Linked DNA regions of Homo sapiens: region 2 is linked to region 1. The links come from fine-mapping of genetic effects on gene expression. A gene starts in region 1. The other region holds a variant in brackets. All regions are shown on one strand. Distances are between the middles of the regions.

Region 1 (8,299 bases):
TAGGAGGCCGAGGCAGGCAGATCACAAGGTCAGGAGATCGAGACCATCCTGGCTAACACGGTGAAACCCCATCTCCACTAAAAATACAAAAAATTAGCCGGGCGTGGTGGCGGGCGCCTGTAGTCCCAGCTACTCGGGAGGCTGAGGTAGGAGAATGGCATGAACCCCACGGGGCGGAGCTTGCAGTGAGCCGAGGTCGTGCCACTATACTCCAGCCTCGGTGACAGAGCGAGAAACTGTCTCAAAAAAAAAAAAAAAAAAAGCAATAACAATTTTAAAAAGCTTCTTCATCATTGACTTTAGATAGCAGATGTGTATTGTCTGAATAATAAAGCCAGTGGCACGATCTCAGCTCACTGCAACCTCTGCCTCCGGGGTTCAAGCGATTCTCGTGCCTTAGCCTCTCCAGCAGCTAGGATTACAGGCGTCCGCCACCACGCCCAGCTAATTTTTGTATTTTTTAGTAGAAACAAGGTTTCACCATGTTGGCCAGGCTGGTCTCGAACTCTTGACCTCAAGTGATCCACCCTCCTTGGCCTCTCAAAGTGCTGGAATTACAGGCATGAGCCACTGCGCCCGGCCTCTTCTTGCCATTCTTTAATTCTGGTCTTTAAAAAACCTGGGCTGGATGCGGCTGTATGTGCCTGTAGTCCCAGCTACTCACAGCCTGAGTCAGAAGGGCTGCCTGCCCCAAAGTTAAGGGCTGTAGTGCACTATGACTGTGCCTGTCAACAGCCACTGCACTCCAGTTTGGGCAACATAGTGGGGGGAAAAAAAAACAAAAAACACAAGGCCGAGGTGGGCGGATCACCTGAGGTCAGGAGTTCGAGACCAGCCTGGCCAACATGGTGAAACCCCGTGTCTACTAAAAATACAAAAAAAAAAATTAGCTGGGCACAGTGGCACATGCCTGTAATCCCAGCTACTCGGGAGGCTGAGGCAGGAGAATCACTTGAACCTGGGAAGCAGAGGTTTCAGTGAGCCGAGACTGCACCACTGCACTGTAGCAGCCCGGGGGGCAAGAGCGAAACTCCATCCAAAAACAACAAAACAAAAAACACCAAGTCTTAGACTCCAGGGCAGAGGCAAAGTATTGAGGATATTGAGGATACGGACCTCTATGTGCACTGCTGAGATGCCAAAAGAACGCTGGCTTTGAGAGTGTAGTGTAAAAGGGTCAGCTCTCAGGTCAGAATGCCTAGGTTCAACTTCTGAAAGTCATTTATTAGTTGTGTGACCTTAAGCAAGTTACTGAATCTATGAGTGTTTCCTCCTGTATAAAATGGGAATATTTTAATAAATGGAGATCATATTACTTATCTCACTAGATTGTCCTAGACAGTAAGTGAAATAAGGTACATAAAGTACTCAAAGTACCTGGCACAGAATAACCAGTCAATAAACATTAGTTATTAATATTCTATACGCCTCTCTAAAAAATTCAAGAAATTTCTCTGTGTGACTTCAAAAGGACTTGGTGAGGGGGAGAACAAAGATTCAGTACTTAGTACTTGAGATTTGTGAGGTACAAAGTAATTCTGAGGTTATACAGACAGGCCAGGCGCTGGTGGCTCACGTCTGTAATCCCAGCACTTTGGGAGGCCGAGGTGGGTGGATGATCAGAGTTCAGCAGTTCGAGACCAGCCTGGCCAACATGGTGAAACCCCATCTCTACTAAAAAAATACAAAAATTAGCTGAGCATGGTGGTGGGCGCCTGTAATTCCAGCTACTCAGGAGGCTGAGGCAGGAGAATTGATTAAACCTAGAAGGCAGAGGTTGCAGTGGGCCAATATCGCGCCATTGCGCTCCAGCGTGGGAGACAAGAGTAAAAACTCGGTCTCAAAAAGAAAAAAAAAAAAAAAGACAGCAACTGACCAGGCACAGTGGCTCACACCTGCAGTTCCAAAACTTTGGGAGCCTGAAGCATGAAGTCTATTGAGATCAGGAATTTGAGACCAGCCTGGACAATACCGTGAGACCCCTCATCTCTACAAAAAAATTTTCAACAGTTAACCAGGCATGGTGGATACGCCTGGAGTCCCAGCTACTCAGGAGGATGAAGTGGGAGGATGGCTTGAGCCCAGGAGGTCAAGGCTGCAGTGAGCTGTGTTCATGCCACTGCACTCCAGCTTGGGTGACAGAGGCTCTGTCTCAGAAGAGAGAAAAAGACAGCAACTGAATCGTAGAAAATGGGGTACAACATGGCAGAAAGAATTATCACAATACTCGTGAATTTTCCACACCCCATCCATAAACTTTGGCAATCTTCACCGTCTTTCCTCAGCCAAGGAACTGAGTTCTTATCTGTTTTGAAAAGGTGGTGCTCGATTATCACGGTAAGTGTTGAGACATAAAATCGTTATGCTAAGATATGAAAAAATATCAAACTAACAAACCTGCCTGCTGCCATTTTCAACTTTGGCAACCAACAAACACAAACAAAAGGCTGAAAAGTGAGTTTCAATGACAGTTTGCCATCATGTGACGACATATAATGCAAAACCCCAGATACTATGCAGGTGGCATCAAAGTAGAATATATCTGGTTCAGGGCCAACACAGGTACATCAATATTCCCATCTCATAATACTATTAAACAGGCCACAATGAGAAAGATCTAGGATAATTTGTGAGCTTATAGACCCCATACTCATTTTTAAAAAATGGTTGTGTTAGACTGGGTGTGGTGGCTCACGCCTGTAATCCCAACACTTTGGGAGTCTGAGGTGGGCAGATCACCTGAGGTCAGGAGTTCGAGACCAGCCTGGTCAACTTGGCGAAACCCCAACCCTACTAAAAATACAAAAACTAGCCAGGCGTAGTGGAGTGTGCCTGTAATCCCAGCTACTAGGGAGGCTGAGACAGGAGAATCCTTTGAACCCGGGGAGGTAGAGATTGCAGTGAGCTGAGATTGCACCATCGCACTCCAGCCTGGGCAACAAAAGCGAAACTCCGCCTCAAACAAACAAAGCTGGGTGCGGTGGCCCACGCCTGTAATCCCAGCATTTTGGGAGGCAAAGGCGAGTGGATCACCTGAGATCAGGAGTTCAAGACCAATCTGGCCAACCTGGTAAAACCCCATCTCTACTAAAAATACAAAAAATTAGCTGGGCGTGGTGGTGATGCACACCAGCAATCCCAGCTACTCAGGAGGCTGAGGCAGAATCACTTGAACCCAAAAGGCAAAGGTTGCAGTGAGCCAAGATCGCGCCACTGCACTCCAGCCTGGGCGACAGAGAGACTCCGTCTCAAAATAAATAAATAAGTAAGAAATAAATAAGAAAAATTTTAAAAAAATTAGTATGTGTTGGCCAGGCGCGGTGGCTCTTGCCTGTAATCCCAGCACTTTGGGAGGCCGAGGCTGGTGGATCACCTGAGGTCAGGAGTTCGAGACCAGCCTGGCCAACCTGGTGAAACTTCGTCTCTACGAAAAATACAACATTAGCTGGTTATGGTGGCGGGTGCCTGTAATCCCAGCTACTTGGGAGACTGAGACAGGAGAATCGCCGTGAGCCGAGATTGCGCCACTGTGCTCCAGCGTGGGTGACAGAGCAAGACTCCGTCTTAGAAAAGAGTAAAATAAAAATTGGTGTGTGTTAACAAAGAGACTGCCTATCCAATTCTCTATTTCTGGCCGGAGCGAGTAAATCTAAATTAGAACTATTCTACAAGGGCAAGTCTACAAAGGACGGCTCAAGAGCTTCCTGATTCATATGAGACTAGTCTGAACCCATTCTCAGCTGGCCAAGAAGAAACTGCTTCGACTTGGCAACAGCGTGAAGGCACGAGGACTCCTGATGCTGTTACACAGGTACACATACAATGAGAACCCCAGAATTACTTTGTACCTCACAAATCTCCAGTACTAAGGGCATCTATCTATTCCCTTAAAACAGTCCCAAATCAACTCCAACGGCATCGGTAAGACAGTCAATCTCAGGGATCCCTCCCTGGCAAGGAAAACCCAGCGCAGGTAATTTATGTTCTTGGCGTAGAGTCTGTTCCCAATATCCAGGAAGACTCAGCCCGCAGCCCCATCTTACTGAGCAAGGTGACGCCCTGAAGTACACACCGACAATGTTTAAGTCCAAGGAAAATGAAGTTCCAGTCACTTACAGGGAAGGGTCTGTTTCCATTGCCTCACTTCTGGTTTATTTTGTGGAATAAAATGTCTTTCCTCCACTAAACACTTTGAAAACCAGAACTCTCTAACGGCGGACAGTCTTCTGGACGCTTAGATCTCTTGCACATAGCCAGGCATCGCCTTAAACTGGGTTGGGCTGGTCACTGAAGGCTTTCTGCTACCACTATTTCTTCTAGCACTTAGTTCACCACCTTCGTCCTCCACGGGGGAAGAGAACGGTACAAAGATTTTGGAAAAATGCCCAAGAAAGGAAAAAATTGACCGGTTTCCTGAGGGTGTCTCCATCCCTCCCGGCCAGTATGTGGTGACTTCCTACCAAAGGCCACCAGGGGAGCACGGCCAAACCCGGCTCTCCAACACGGCAGGAAACGTTTCCAGCCTAAAAGCCACTTGTAGGATTATCGGATTCATTCTGGGCGCCGCTGCCAAGTGATGCCCCCGCAGTGCCAACATCTCCCTCAGCTCTTTGTCCCCACGTTGCCTTGCCCTGCCCTACCCTTGCGCCTGGCCCGGGAGCCAGCCCCACCCTGGGGCCGAAGCAGTTCCCCTTCCCCGCGGCTGCCCTCCCCAGGCACACCCCGGGGCCTCGGTCCGCGGCTCCTCCTCCCCCACACTCCTGCTCCCCGGGTGAGAGCGAGCCCGAGCAGCCGGCGGGCCCCTGCCACGGTCACCCAGCCCTCTGCCCACGACCCCCGAGGGTCCGCTCTCGAGGACCAGCCAGCCAGGCTGGGAGTTCCGCGGCCCTCACCCCGCCCAGGGCCCGCCGTCCCGTCAGTCCCTCACCGGGCGGAGGCTGGGCGGGCGACGGTGGCACCGGCGGGCGCGGGCCGCTGCTGTTGATGATGTAGTGGGAGACGCGCGAGTTCTCTGAGACGCTGAGCACATAGTCCCCGGGGCTGGTGCTCGAGTCCCGCACCAGGAACACCCCGTGCCGCTGGCCCTGCAGCAGCGCCACCGCCTCCTGCCGACTCAACCTCCCCCAGTACCAGCTACTCCGCTCCTCCGAGTCGAAGTTGCCCGCCATGGCTGCCTCCGCGCCTAAACGCTGGGGTGCCGCCGCCGCGCGCGCCCCTCCGGCCCCCGGCGCCCGCCGCCCAGCGGACCGGCTCCGGTTTCAGCTTCACAGCAGCGCCCGAAATGGCGGCGGCAGCCGCGGGCCTCCCCCTCCGGAAATGACGCGCTCCCTGCCCGAGGGAGGCTGCCGGGAAGGGGCCCGCGGCCCGCCATTGGGAGAAGGGCAAGGCGCCCTCGCGCGCGCACTGCGCATGCGGATTCATGGGCGGTGCCGCCCTTCCCGGGCCCGGGCTGCGGGGGATGGGAGGCGGGGTCTAGGGCCCGAGGGGCGGGGCCTCGCAGCCTCCCGCAGAGACGCGCGCCTGCGCTGCGGACAGAGCGGTGCTTCTCGTCTGGGCCCCGGTTCCTGGACGACCTGGGACTTCTAGGCAGCGACTCCCAGACAGAATTGGAGGAGAAAAGATGCGTGTGGCCCTGGGGCCTGAGTTCTCGGCCAGGCTTCCTGCGATATCAGTCTGTTTCTTTTTTCTTTTTCTTTTTGAGACGGAGTCTTGTTCTGTCGCCCACGCTGGAGTGCAATGGCGCGATCTCGGCTCACTGCTCCCGGGTTCAAGCGATTCTCCTGCGTCAGCCTCCCGAGTAGCTGAGACTACAGGCGTGAGCCACCGCGCCCGGCTGTTTTTTGTATTTTTAGTAGAGACGGGGGTTTCACCATGTCGGCCAGGATGGTCTCAATCTCCTGACCTCAGGTGATCCGCCCGCCTCGGCCTCCCAAAGTGCTGGGATTACAGGCGAGAAACATCGCGCCCGGCCACGTCGGTCCGTTTCTGCTCGTTCCTCTAGCTTCTCCACAGACCAGCTGACGTTCTCATTTTCATTGATTCACCTAGGACATTGTTGTTGACACTCCACTTGCACTGCGGGTGCAAAGGTTATCATGGCTGGGCCCTGCACTCCTCGAACTCACAGACCAGTGAGAGGAACCAGGAAACTGGATGACAAAAGGATGACAAATGCTGACAAACGCTATCATGGGAAACGGACATGAACACAGAGCAGAGCCCCCACAGCCAGTCTATGGAGTAATCCAGGAGGGCTTCCCAGAGGAGGCAGCATGTGTTGACTGCTGAATGACAAATGGGGAAGGACATTCTTTCTTTTTTTTTTTTTTTTTTTTTTGAGATGGAGTCTCGCTCTGTCGCCCAGGCTGGAGTGCCTGGGCGTGATCTCGGCTCACTGCAAGCTCCGCCTCCCGGGTTCACGCCATTCTCCTGCCTCAGCCTCCCGAGTTGCTGGGACTGCAGGCACCCGCCACCACGCCCGGCTAACTTTTTGTATTTTTAGTAGAGATGGGGTTTCACCGTGTTAGCCAGGCTGGTCTCGATCTCCTGACCTTGAGATCCGCCCACCTCGGCCTCCCAAAGTGCTGGGATTACAGGCGTGAGCCACCGCACTCGGCGGGGAAGGACATTCAAAGCAAAGGGAGCAGAGTGTACCAAGCCACGTGAAGTACAGAGTTCTCTTCTCTTTTGAGGCTTTGGGGTCACCTGCCCAGATAATTCTAAACACTAAATTGTAGCCAGGGGCATCTCCTACTCTCACTGCCCTCATGATTGCCTCTGGACTGTGTTCCTACGAGTGTCGTGCTCGCTGGTGCTCTTTCGTCTGGCTGCCCCTAATCGCACTGCAAACAACTCCCACTGAGTTTTCTAAAATACAGATCTGGCCGGGCGCCGTGGCTCATGCCTGTAATCCCAACACTTTGGGAGGCTGTGGCTGGCAGATCACCTGAGGTCAGAAGTTCGAGACCGGGCTGACCAATATGGTGAAGCCCGGTCTCTACTAAAAATACAAAAATTAGCCAGGTGTGTTAGCGGGCGCCTGTAATCCCAGCTACTCAGGAGGATGAGGCAGGAGAATCGCTTGAACCCAGGAGGCGGAGGTTGCAGTGAGCCGAAATCATGCCACTGCACTCCAGCCTGGGTGACAGAGGGAGATCCTGTCTCAAAAATATATATATATGTATACAAATCTGAATGTGTTGCTACCTTGTGTAAAACTTTTAACAGTCTTCAGGTGTTCAAACTCCCAGTTTAGCTCAGAGCATAAAATTGGGCCACAGTCTCTCTCTCTCTTTTTTTTTTTTTTAGATGGATTCCTGCTCTGTTGCCCAGGCTGGAGTGCAGTGGCGTGATCTCGGCTCACTGCAATCTCCGCCTCCCGGATTCAAGCGATTATCCCTGCCTCAGCCTCCCGAGTAGCTGGGACTACAGGCACCCGCCACCACGCCCGGCTAATGTTTGTATTTTCAGTAGAGACGGGGTTTCACCATATTGGCCAGGCTCATTTTTTTTTAATTAAAAATTTTTTCTGGCCAGGCATAGTGGCTCATGCTTGTAATCCCAGCACTTTGGGAGGCCAGGAGGTCAGGAGTTCGAGACCAGCCTGGCCAACATGGCAAAACCTCATCTCTACTGAAAATACAAAAAATTAGCCGGATGTGCTGGCAGGTGCCTGAAGTCCCAGCTACTCGGGAGGCTGAGACAGGAGAATCACTTGAACCCGGGAGGCAGAGGTTGCAGTGAGGTGAGATCGCGCCATTGCACTCCAGCCTGGGCGACAGAGCGAGACTCCATCTCAAAAAACATTGTTTTTCTTTATAGCCGAGCGTGGTGGCACATCCAGCTATAGTCCCAGCTACTCAGGAACCTGAGGCGGGTGGATCACTTGAGCCCAGGAGTTCGAGGCTGTATTGAGCTATGATCATGCCACAGCACTTCAGCCCAGGTGACAGAGTGAGACCACCTCTCTAAAATAATAATCATCATTTTTTTAAGAGATGAGGTCAGCTGGTCGCTGTGGCTCACGCCAGTAATCCCAGCATTTTGGGAGGCTGAGGCAGGTGGATCACGAGGTCAGGAGATCGACACCATCCTGGCTAACACGGTGAAACGCGGTCTCTACTAAAAATACAAAAAAAATTAGCTGGGCGTGGTGGCGGGCGCCTGTAGTCCCAGCTACTCAGGAGGCTGAGGCAGGAGAATGGGTGAACCCAGGAGGCGGAGCTTGCAGTGAGCTGAGATCGAGCCACTGCACTCCAGCCTGGGCGATAGAGTGAGACTCCGTCTCAGAAAAAAAAAA
Region 2 (8,328 bases), 35 kb before region 1:
AGAAAAAAAGAAAATACGATCAAGAACCTCACTTTGGCCAGGCGTGGTGGCTCAGGCCTGTAATCCCAGCATGTTTGGAGGCCAAGGCAGGTGGATCCTTTGAGACCAGCCTGGGCTACATAGCAACACCCCATCTCTTAAAAAATAGTAATTTTAAAAAACCTCAAAAATTAGCTGGGGATGGTGGTGTGCGCCTGTAGTCCCAGCTGCCTGGAAGGCTGAGAGGTGGGAGGATCGCTTGAGTCCAGGAGGCGGAGGTTTCTGTGAGCTGAGATCACGCCACTGCACTCCAGCCTGGGCAACAGAGTGAGACCCCATCTCAAACAAACAAAAAACAAAAAAAATCACATTCAGCCGGGAATGGCAGCTCACACAGATAATCCCAGCATTTTGGGAGGTTGAGGCAGGAGGATTACTTGAGCCTAGGAGTTCAAGAGCAGCCATAGCAAAACCCTCATCTCTACCAAAAATTAACAAACTAGCCAGGTGTGGTGGTGCGCAACTGTCGTCCCAGCTATTTTGGAGGCATAGGTGGGCAGATTGCTTGAGTCCCGGAGGTCCAGGCTGCGCTGAGTCCGGGTTGCACTGTTGCATCCCAGCCTGGGCAACAGTGAGTTTTGTCTCTCAAAAGAAACAAACAAAGGGCCGGGCATGGTGGCTCACGCCTGTAATCCCAGCACTTTGGGAGGCTGAGGTGGGCAGATCACAAGGTCAGGAGTTCAAGACCAGCCTGGCCAACATGGTGAAACCCCATCTCTACTAAAAATACAAAAAATTAGCCGGACGTGGTGGCACGCACTGGAATCCCAGCTACTTGGGACGCTGAGGCAGAAGAATCGCTTTAACCTGGGAGGTGGAGGTTGTGGTGAGCTGAGATGGCACCATTGCACTCCAGGCTGGACAACAGAGCAAAACTCCACCTCAAAAAAAAAAAAAAAAAAACAACACTCATCACATTCATTCCTTTTTTCTAAGTATCATAGATTTTTTGCGTGTTTGCTTTTTGAAACGGAGTCTGGTTCTGTCGCCCAGGCTGGAGTGTAGTGGTGTGGTCTTGGTTCACTGCAACCTCTGCCTCCCAGGTTCAAGAGAGTCTCCCACCTCAGCCTCCTGAGTAGCTGAGATTACAGGCATCCCCCACCATGCCCGGCTAATTTTATATTATTTATTTATTTTTGAGACAGTATCGCTCTGTTGCCCAGGCCGGAGTGCAATGGTGCGATCTCAGCTTACTGCAACCTCTGCCTCCCCGGTTGAAGTGATTCTCCTGCCTCAGCTTCCCGAGTAGCTGGGATTAAAGGCACCTGCCACCACACCTGGCTTTTTTTTTTTTTTTTTTGAGATGGAGTCTCACTCTGACGTCCAGGCTGGAGTGCAGTGGCGTGGTCTCGGCTCACTGCAAACTCCGTCTCCCAGGTTCAAGCCACTCTGCCTCGGCCTCCGGAGTAGCTGGGACTCAGGCGTCCGCCACTACACCTGGCTAGTTTTTTGTATTTTTAGTAGAGATGGGGTTTCACCGTGTTAGCCAGGATGGTCTCGATCTCCTGACCTCATAATCCACCCGCCTCGGGCTCCCACAGTTCTGGGATGAGGCGTGAGCCACCGCGCCCGGCCTGCTCTGTTTTTGAGCTTCACTTCTAGATGGCTAAAGGTTCTTTTTTGCCTCTACCTTATCTCCCATTTCACAGTCTTCAGAACATGGGTGGCAACAGCACGCCACTTTCTCCGCCTCTCCCTGTCAAACTTAGCAGGGTTAATGGTTATTTTCACATTTTCTTCTATACCGGCCCCCTCTCATCTTTTCATACCTGTAAGAGGAACAGAATTTAACCTGGAAGTCCAGGTCATAAAATACGACAGCTGGTATGAATACTGTAGACTATATAAAAGAACACGCCATTCAACAGGGTTTTTTTTGGTTTTGGGTTTTGTTTCAGACAGGGTCTTACCCTGTCGCTCAGGCTGGAGTGAAGTGGCACAATCTCACTGCACCGTCAGCCTCTTGGGTTCAAGCAACTCTTCTGCCTCAGCGGCCTAAGTGGCTGGGATTACAGGCGCACACCACCACACCCAGCTAATTTTTTTTTGTATTTTTAGTAGAGACAGTGTTTCACCACGTGGGCCAGGCTGGTTTCAAACTCCTGATCTCAAATGATTCCACCACCTAGGCCTCCCAAGTGCGAGGATTACAGGCATAAGCCACTGTACCTGGCCTGCTTTCAGGCCTTTATATGATTCTTATGGTCCCCTCAAATCAGTATTTTATGACTCATACTCATGGAGACCTTTAAAAATATCACCAGGCCAGAGGCCGGGCGCAGTGGCTCACGCCTGTAATTCCAGCACACTGGGAGGCCGAGGCGGGTGGATCACCTGAGGTCAAGAGTTCAAGACCAGCCTAGCCAACATGGTGAAACACCATCTCTACTAAAAATACAAAAATTAGCAGGGCCTGGTGGCGTGCACCTGTAATCCCAGCTATTCGGGAGGCTGAGGCAGGAGAATCGCTTATACCCGGGAGGCAAGGTTGGAGTAAGCTGAGATCACGCCACTGCCCTCCAGCCTGGGGCACAAGAGGAAAATTTTGTCTTGAAAAAAAAAAAAATCACGAGGCCAGGCGCGGTGGCTCACGCCTGTAATCCCAGTACTTTGGGGGGCCAAAGTGGATCACCTGCGGTCAGGAGGTTTGAGACCAGCCTGGCCAAAATGGTGAAACCCCATCTCTACTAAAAATACAAAAATTAGCCAGGTATGGTGGCACGTGCCTGTAATCCCAGCTACTCGGGAGGCTGAGGCAGGAGAATCGCTTGAACACAGGAGACAGAGGTTACAACGAGCTGAGATAGCGCCACTATACTCCAGCCTGCACAACAAGAGTGAAACTCCGTCCCCGCCCCCCACCCTGCGCCCCGCCAAAAAAAAAAAAAAAAAAAAAGGCCGGATACGGTGGCTCATCCCTGTAATCCTAGCACTTTGGGAGGCTGAGGCAGGCGGATCACCTGAGGTTGGGAGTTCCAGACCAGCCTGACCAACATGGAGAAATCCCGTTTCTACTAAAAATTCAAAATTAGCCGGGCATGGTGGCGCATGCCTGTAATCCCAGCTACTCGGGAGGCTGAGGCAGGAGAATTGCTTGAACCCAGGAGGTGGAGGTTGCAGTGAGCCAAGAACGCAGCACTACACTCCAGCCTGGGCAACAAGAGCGAAACTCCATCTCAACAAAAATAAATAAATAAATAATTAAAAAAAAATCTGTGTCTATATATATCACCATTGATTAATCCCATCTTTTTTTTTTTTTTCCCTGAGATGGAGTCTTGCTCTGTCACCCAGGCTGGAGTGCAGTGGCGTGATCTCGGCTAACTACAATCTCCACTTCACAGGTTCAAGTAATTCATCTGCCTCAGCCTCCCGAGTAGCTGGGACTATAGGTGCACGCCACAACGCCTGGCTAATTTTTGTATTTTATTGATTGATTAATTGAGACAGAGTCTCGCTCTGTTGCCCAGGCTGGAGTACGGTGGTGCCATCTTGGATCACTGCAAGCTCTGCCTCCCGGGTTCAAGCGATTCTCCTGCCTCAGCCTCCCGTGCAGCTGGGACTACAGGCGCGTGCCACCACGCCCGGCTAATTTTTCGTATTTTTAGTGGAGACCGGGTTTCACCATGTTAGCCAGGATGGTCTCGATCTCCTGACTTTGTGATCCACCCACCTCAGCCTCCTAAAGTGCTGGGATTACAGGCGTGAGCCATCATGCCCAGCCAGATTTTAGTATTTTTAGTAGAGACGGAGTTTCACTATGTTGGCCAGGCTGGTCTCGAACTCCTGACCTTCTGATCCGCTCGCCTCTGCCTCCCAAGGTGCTGGGATTACAGGCATGAGCCACCACACCCGGCCTAATCCCATCTTTAATAAGCACCCACTGAGCTTGTATAATTGTTTATCTAATTATATGACTGCAGGCTGCTGAAGGCACATACCTCCTATCCCCTAAGCATAAAGATTTACCTCTCGCTGGGTGCGGTGGTGGCTGAAGCCTGTAATCCCAGCACTTTAGGAGGCGGAGGCAGGCGGATCACCCGAGGTCAGGAATTTGAGACCAGCCTGGCTAACATGGTGAAACCCCATTTCTACTAAAAATACAGTAAATTAGCTGGGCGTGGTGGTGCATGCCTGTAACCCCAGCTACTCGGGAGGCAGAGGTAGGAGAATTGCTTGAACGTGGGAGGCGGAAGTTGCAGTGAGCCGAGATCGCATCACTGCACCCCAGCTTAGGTCACAAGAGCGAAACTCTGTCTCAAAAAAAAAAAAAGATTTAGTTCTTTTGTGAAAAATATTCAAAGATTACTTTTTTGCAAAAGATCACCAAGCCAAACATTTGGCCATATTTTTATTTACTACATATACTATAAACATATACAATACATGCTACCAAAAAAAATTTTTTTTTAAATTTAACTGTCAAGAAAGTGTATAGTGTTATAATACAATGGCACATGTTTATATTTTATTTCAAATTGGTTTGCTTATCACCTATTTCAAACCATTAACAGTGAAATGTTACTTGTGGATAATTAAAAATTATCTATTTGCATTATTAACAATAAACAATTCCAACAAATTAATAAGAATTAACCATGTCAAATATTAGTATTCAAAAAATGGGATTTGCAGAAATGATTATATAAAATATAGCAGCCAATTTCAGTTTACTTTGCCAATAGGATTTCAGCATTTGCTTTTTTTTGGAAGACACTTATAAGACATCCTTTGATTTCTTGAGGGGCATTAACTGCCACACTCAACAGTCAAATCCAGCCCAGTGGTTCATGAACGGCCCTGGATCACTGATCACTGAGGAATCCTTAGGACTTGAGTAGCGCTGCCTGTTCCACTGATATTACATATGATGAAAAGAGACATTACAAGCCAATATCAAAGT[CAAAGGA/C]AAAGAAAATAGGAACATTCAAATCAGTTGTGACAAGGTTTTTCTACAAGTATTTTTGATGCCATACTTTCAGGAAAACAAGATTTAATGTGTGTGTGGACTTTACAGTATCTACGTTCTAACTGAAAATTTAACAAAGCAGTCAGATGGAATTACATGTAGTATTACAAATGTGTTCATTCAACACTAATGAGCACCCACTCTGTGCATAGCACTGGGCTACCATTTTACAAGTTGAGTTTAACGTCTTTATCAAGCATGACCTTAGTGTGAGGTAAAATACATTAAATTAGCGTCAACGCGTTAGTCTGCTTGCGGCCATGTACGGAATCCTGGGCCAGCTGGCTTCCCTGTGCCACGTCACCGGTTTCTCAGGTCTCCTCATTCACTCAGACAAATACGTGCACACTGACTGTGTGTCAGACAGTGTGCCGGTCACTCGGACACCACAATCTGGTATAGGTTCAAAGAATGTAAATTTATCATTTTAACCTATGCAGAACAATTAGAAAGGCAGATTATTTTTCCAAAATGAGGTCCAAAGCAAACTATAAGGTGTTTCTATTGGTCATACCACACCAGAGACCGGTAAGTGCCTTTATAGACTGAGAACTAACGTGGAAGTTTCATGCTGTCGTCTAAATAGCCTAGGTCATTTTTGGTCTCATAGGTCTATTTTGTGGAGCACCTGACCCCATATAAATCATTCCATACTTAAATGGGTTTGTAAACTAAACCTGAACATAAACAAAGAGCCAAAAATGAAGGCAGTTTACAATGTAATGTTCTTCAACAGCATTACTCTCCCCATGAGAAATGAATAATACATAAGTAATTCACAATTGGTTCAACATTTTTTTTTCTTTTTTTTTTCCTTTTTTTTTTTTTTGAGACTGAGTCTTGCCCTGTCGCTCAGGCTGGAACGCAGTGGTGCGATCTCGGCTCACTGCAGCCTCCACCTCCCAGGTTGAAGCAATTCTCCTGCCTCAGCCTCCCGAGTAGCTGGGATTACAGGCGTGCACCACCACGCCGGGCTAATTTTTTATATCTTTAGCAGAGATGGGGTTTCACTATGTTGGCCAGGCTGGTCTCGAACTCCTGACCTCATGATCCACCCGCCTCGGCCTCCCAAAGTGCTGGGATTACAGACGTGAGCCACCGCGCCCAGCCGGTTCAACATTTTTTCAAAGCACTAACCCTACCCCAAATTCATGTAATACTAACTTGACTTTTATACAAGTTGCACAGAATGCAGAGGGCAGAATTTGACCCCAAAACCTTCCACAGAATATCAGAGGTGATTGGTCCTTCCACTCTTGAGTAGAACCTAAGAATTCCAAGAGTCTCCTAATAGGATACTGGCCCTCTGGAGAAATGGCCCTGCTGGATCCCATTAGTTAGGACTCTAGTTAGCTGCTGTAGAAGGGTGACCTACTACGACCCTTTTGGGGAAGGCAGAGAGCTGGGAGACTGGCTGTCCACTTAGTGAATCCAACACTGGCTTAAAGCTATGCACTGAATAAAGTGCTCGGTACATCCTGCTTTTCACCTGGAATGAAAATACACACTTATCTTAGGAATTCACCTACTTACAGGTTTGGGGGACAAGAATGTCAAGGGCTAAAAGAATCCCAAGAAAAAGTATGAAGCATTGACTAGGAGGGAACAAATGCTTCTAGTAGTGTTCTTAGAATTCTTAGGATCTGAAATGTCAGAATGAGTCACACGCTGGTCATGCTCCATACAATGAAAGCAATCCTGCTTGATACTATTCACACGGTGCATGATTACTTCACGGGGGTGGAACGGAACAGTCTGTCGCCATTTGATAGTATGGTTCCAGAATGAAAACAAAACCACTGAATAAATCAGGGTAAGCAGTGTGTAACACTCCTTCCTGTCCATCGGTTTTCCACAGGGTGATTTGCACTGCCTGAGAGAAAGGAGGCAAGATACCTATCCCTTCTGATACACACAGGCACGACCACTACCGCCTCCAATTGCCAATTCAGAAGCTAACACACAAGCCCTCCAGTTCGTACCCTGAATATGGTAATTAAGACTAGGAATGGAGCAGTTCAGTCTAAAAAATATCACAGGTAACAGAATGCTTATATAAACTAGACTGCTTTTGACATCTGTAAGAAAATTGTATAGATGGCAGTTGGAAAAAAAAAAAAAAGATTGTTCCCATCTGTCAGCAAAACTGTTGAACTATACTCAGCTGAAGTCCTCATCGGGATTCTGTTGATCCAGCAGACGGACATGTGTGAATGGGAAGTGACCTCGTTTGCCATTACACTCCCCTTCCCACTGACCACTCACATTAATCTTCGTAACCTTTACCAGCTCACCGACCTGCAGGAGGAGAATAAGGAGAGCACTTTATTTCCAGGTAGGAATGCAAGCTGAACAACTCCATTCTCTGGTTAGGCACACCCTGCCCATGTGACTGCTCTAGGGATATTACAGAAATGGCCATTTGCTGCCTCCCCAGCCCCAGCCACCAGACTGATTACTTGTGGTTAATGCAGGCAGAAGGAAAAGTGTTTTTAGCAGTGTGGAAAAACAGAGAATACAGAAAGTAAAAGGGATTCCAGATAATGATACTTTTTGATTAAAAAAGGAAAGTGATAATTATTGGAAATCTCAGCTGTCTCTGCATGAGCAATCCCAACTTCAGTGAGTTAGCTACTATTCCCTTTCTTTGTACTCACTACCCTCAGCTTTCTGCCTGCTCCGCAGGCCCTGTCCGAGGAGAAGCAGCTTTCTCCGTTTTTTTTTTTTTTTTTTTTTGAGACGGAGTCTCTGTCACCCAGGCTGGATGACAGTGGCGTGATCTCAGCTCACTGCAAGCTCTGCCTCCCAGGTTCGAGCAATTTTCCTGCCACAGCCTCCCGAGTAGCTGGGACTACAGGCGCCTGCCACCGTGCCCAGCTAATTTTTGTATTTTTAGTAGAGATGGAGTTTCACCATCTTGGCCAGGCTGGTCTCGAACTCCTGACCTTGTGATCCACCTGCCTTGGCCTCCCAAAGTGCTTGGATTACAGGCGTGAGCCACTGTGCCTGGCCGCCTTCTCCCCGCTTTAGCATATGGCAGCAGCACAATCCCCCAGCCCACTCGCACAAGACCTGGCCTGTTACTGCTTGCACAGCAGAAAGCGATCATGGCAAGCATAGGTCACTTGGTCCTAGAGAATCAAGTGTTCCTATCACCTCCTGACCCAGGCAAGCCTTTTCCCATATGGGCAGGTAGAGGCCAAAACTCCAGGTCCAATTAGCTCCCAGAAAACCCCCACCTCATTCAGTAAGCTCTACTTCACAAGCCACTGCCTGCCCAGCCCCCAAATCCCACCATCGGACAGACCTTGCTGCTCCCT

Which allele goes with the higher level. Positions count from the first base shown, and alleles are read on the strand shown. Sizes are in standard deviations (SD) of each study's normalised expression.
With allele C in place of CAAAGGA in region 2, the expression in tibial nerve of the gene that starts at base 5,283 in region 1 is lower (small effect, 0.24 SD a copy in GTEx).

Evidence for each region. PIP is the estimated chance that this variant, and not a neighbour inherited with it, causes the effect.
Region 2: its variant is fine-mapped to the expression of CRK in tibial nerve (GTEx, PIP 0.98). The same link has a PIP of 0.9 or more in esophagus mucosa, subcutaneous fat and sun-exposed skin.

What each region holds. Positions count from the first base shown.
Region 1 is chr17:1,450,950-1,459,248 of GRCh38, forward strand. CRK (CRK proto-oncogene, adaptor protein) reads right to left here and starts at 5,283. Exons shown (of 3, transcript NM_016823.4): 1 at 4,928-5,283. The coding sequence starts at 5,168. RefSeq lists enhancers at 2,816-3,317, 4,452-5,437 and silencers at 4,702-4,831, 4,942-5,001, 5,092-5,591.
Region 2 is chr17:1,416,345-1,424,672 of GRCh38, forward strand. It overlaps CRK (CRK proto-oncogene, adaptor protein), which reads right to left. Exons shown (of 3, transcript NM_016823.4): 3 at 4,349-7,306. The coding sequence ends at 7,169. It overlaps CRK-AS1 (CRK antisense RNA 1), which reads left to right and starts at 8,242. Exons shown (of 1, transcript NR_198965.1): 1 at 8,242-8,321. The variant CAAAGGA/C (reference allele first, on the strand shown) is at 4,943.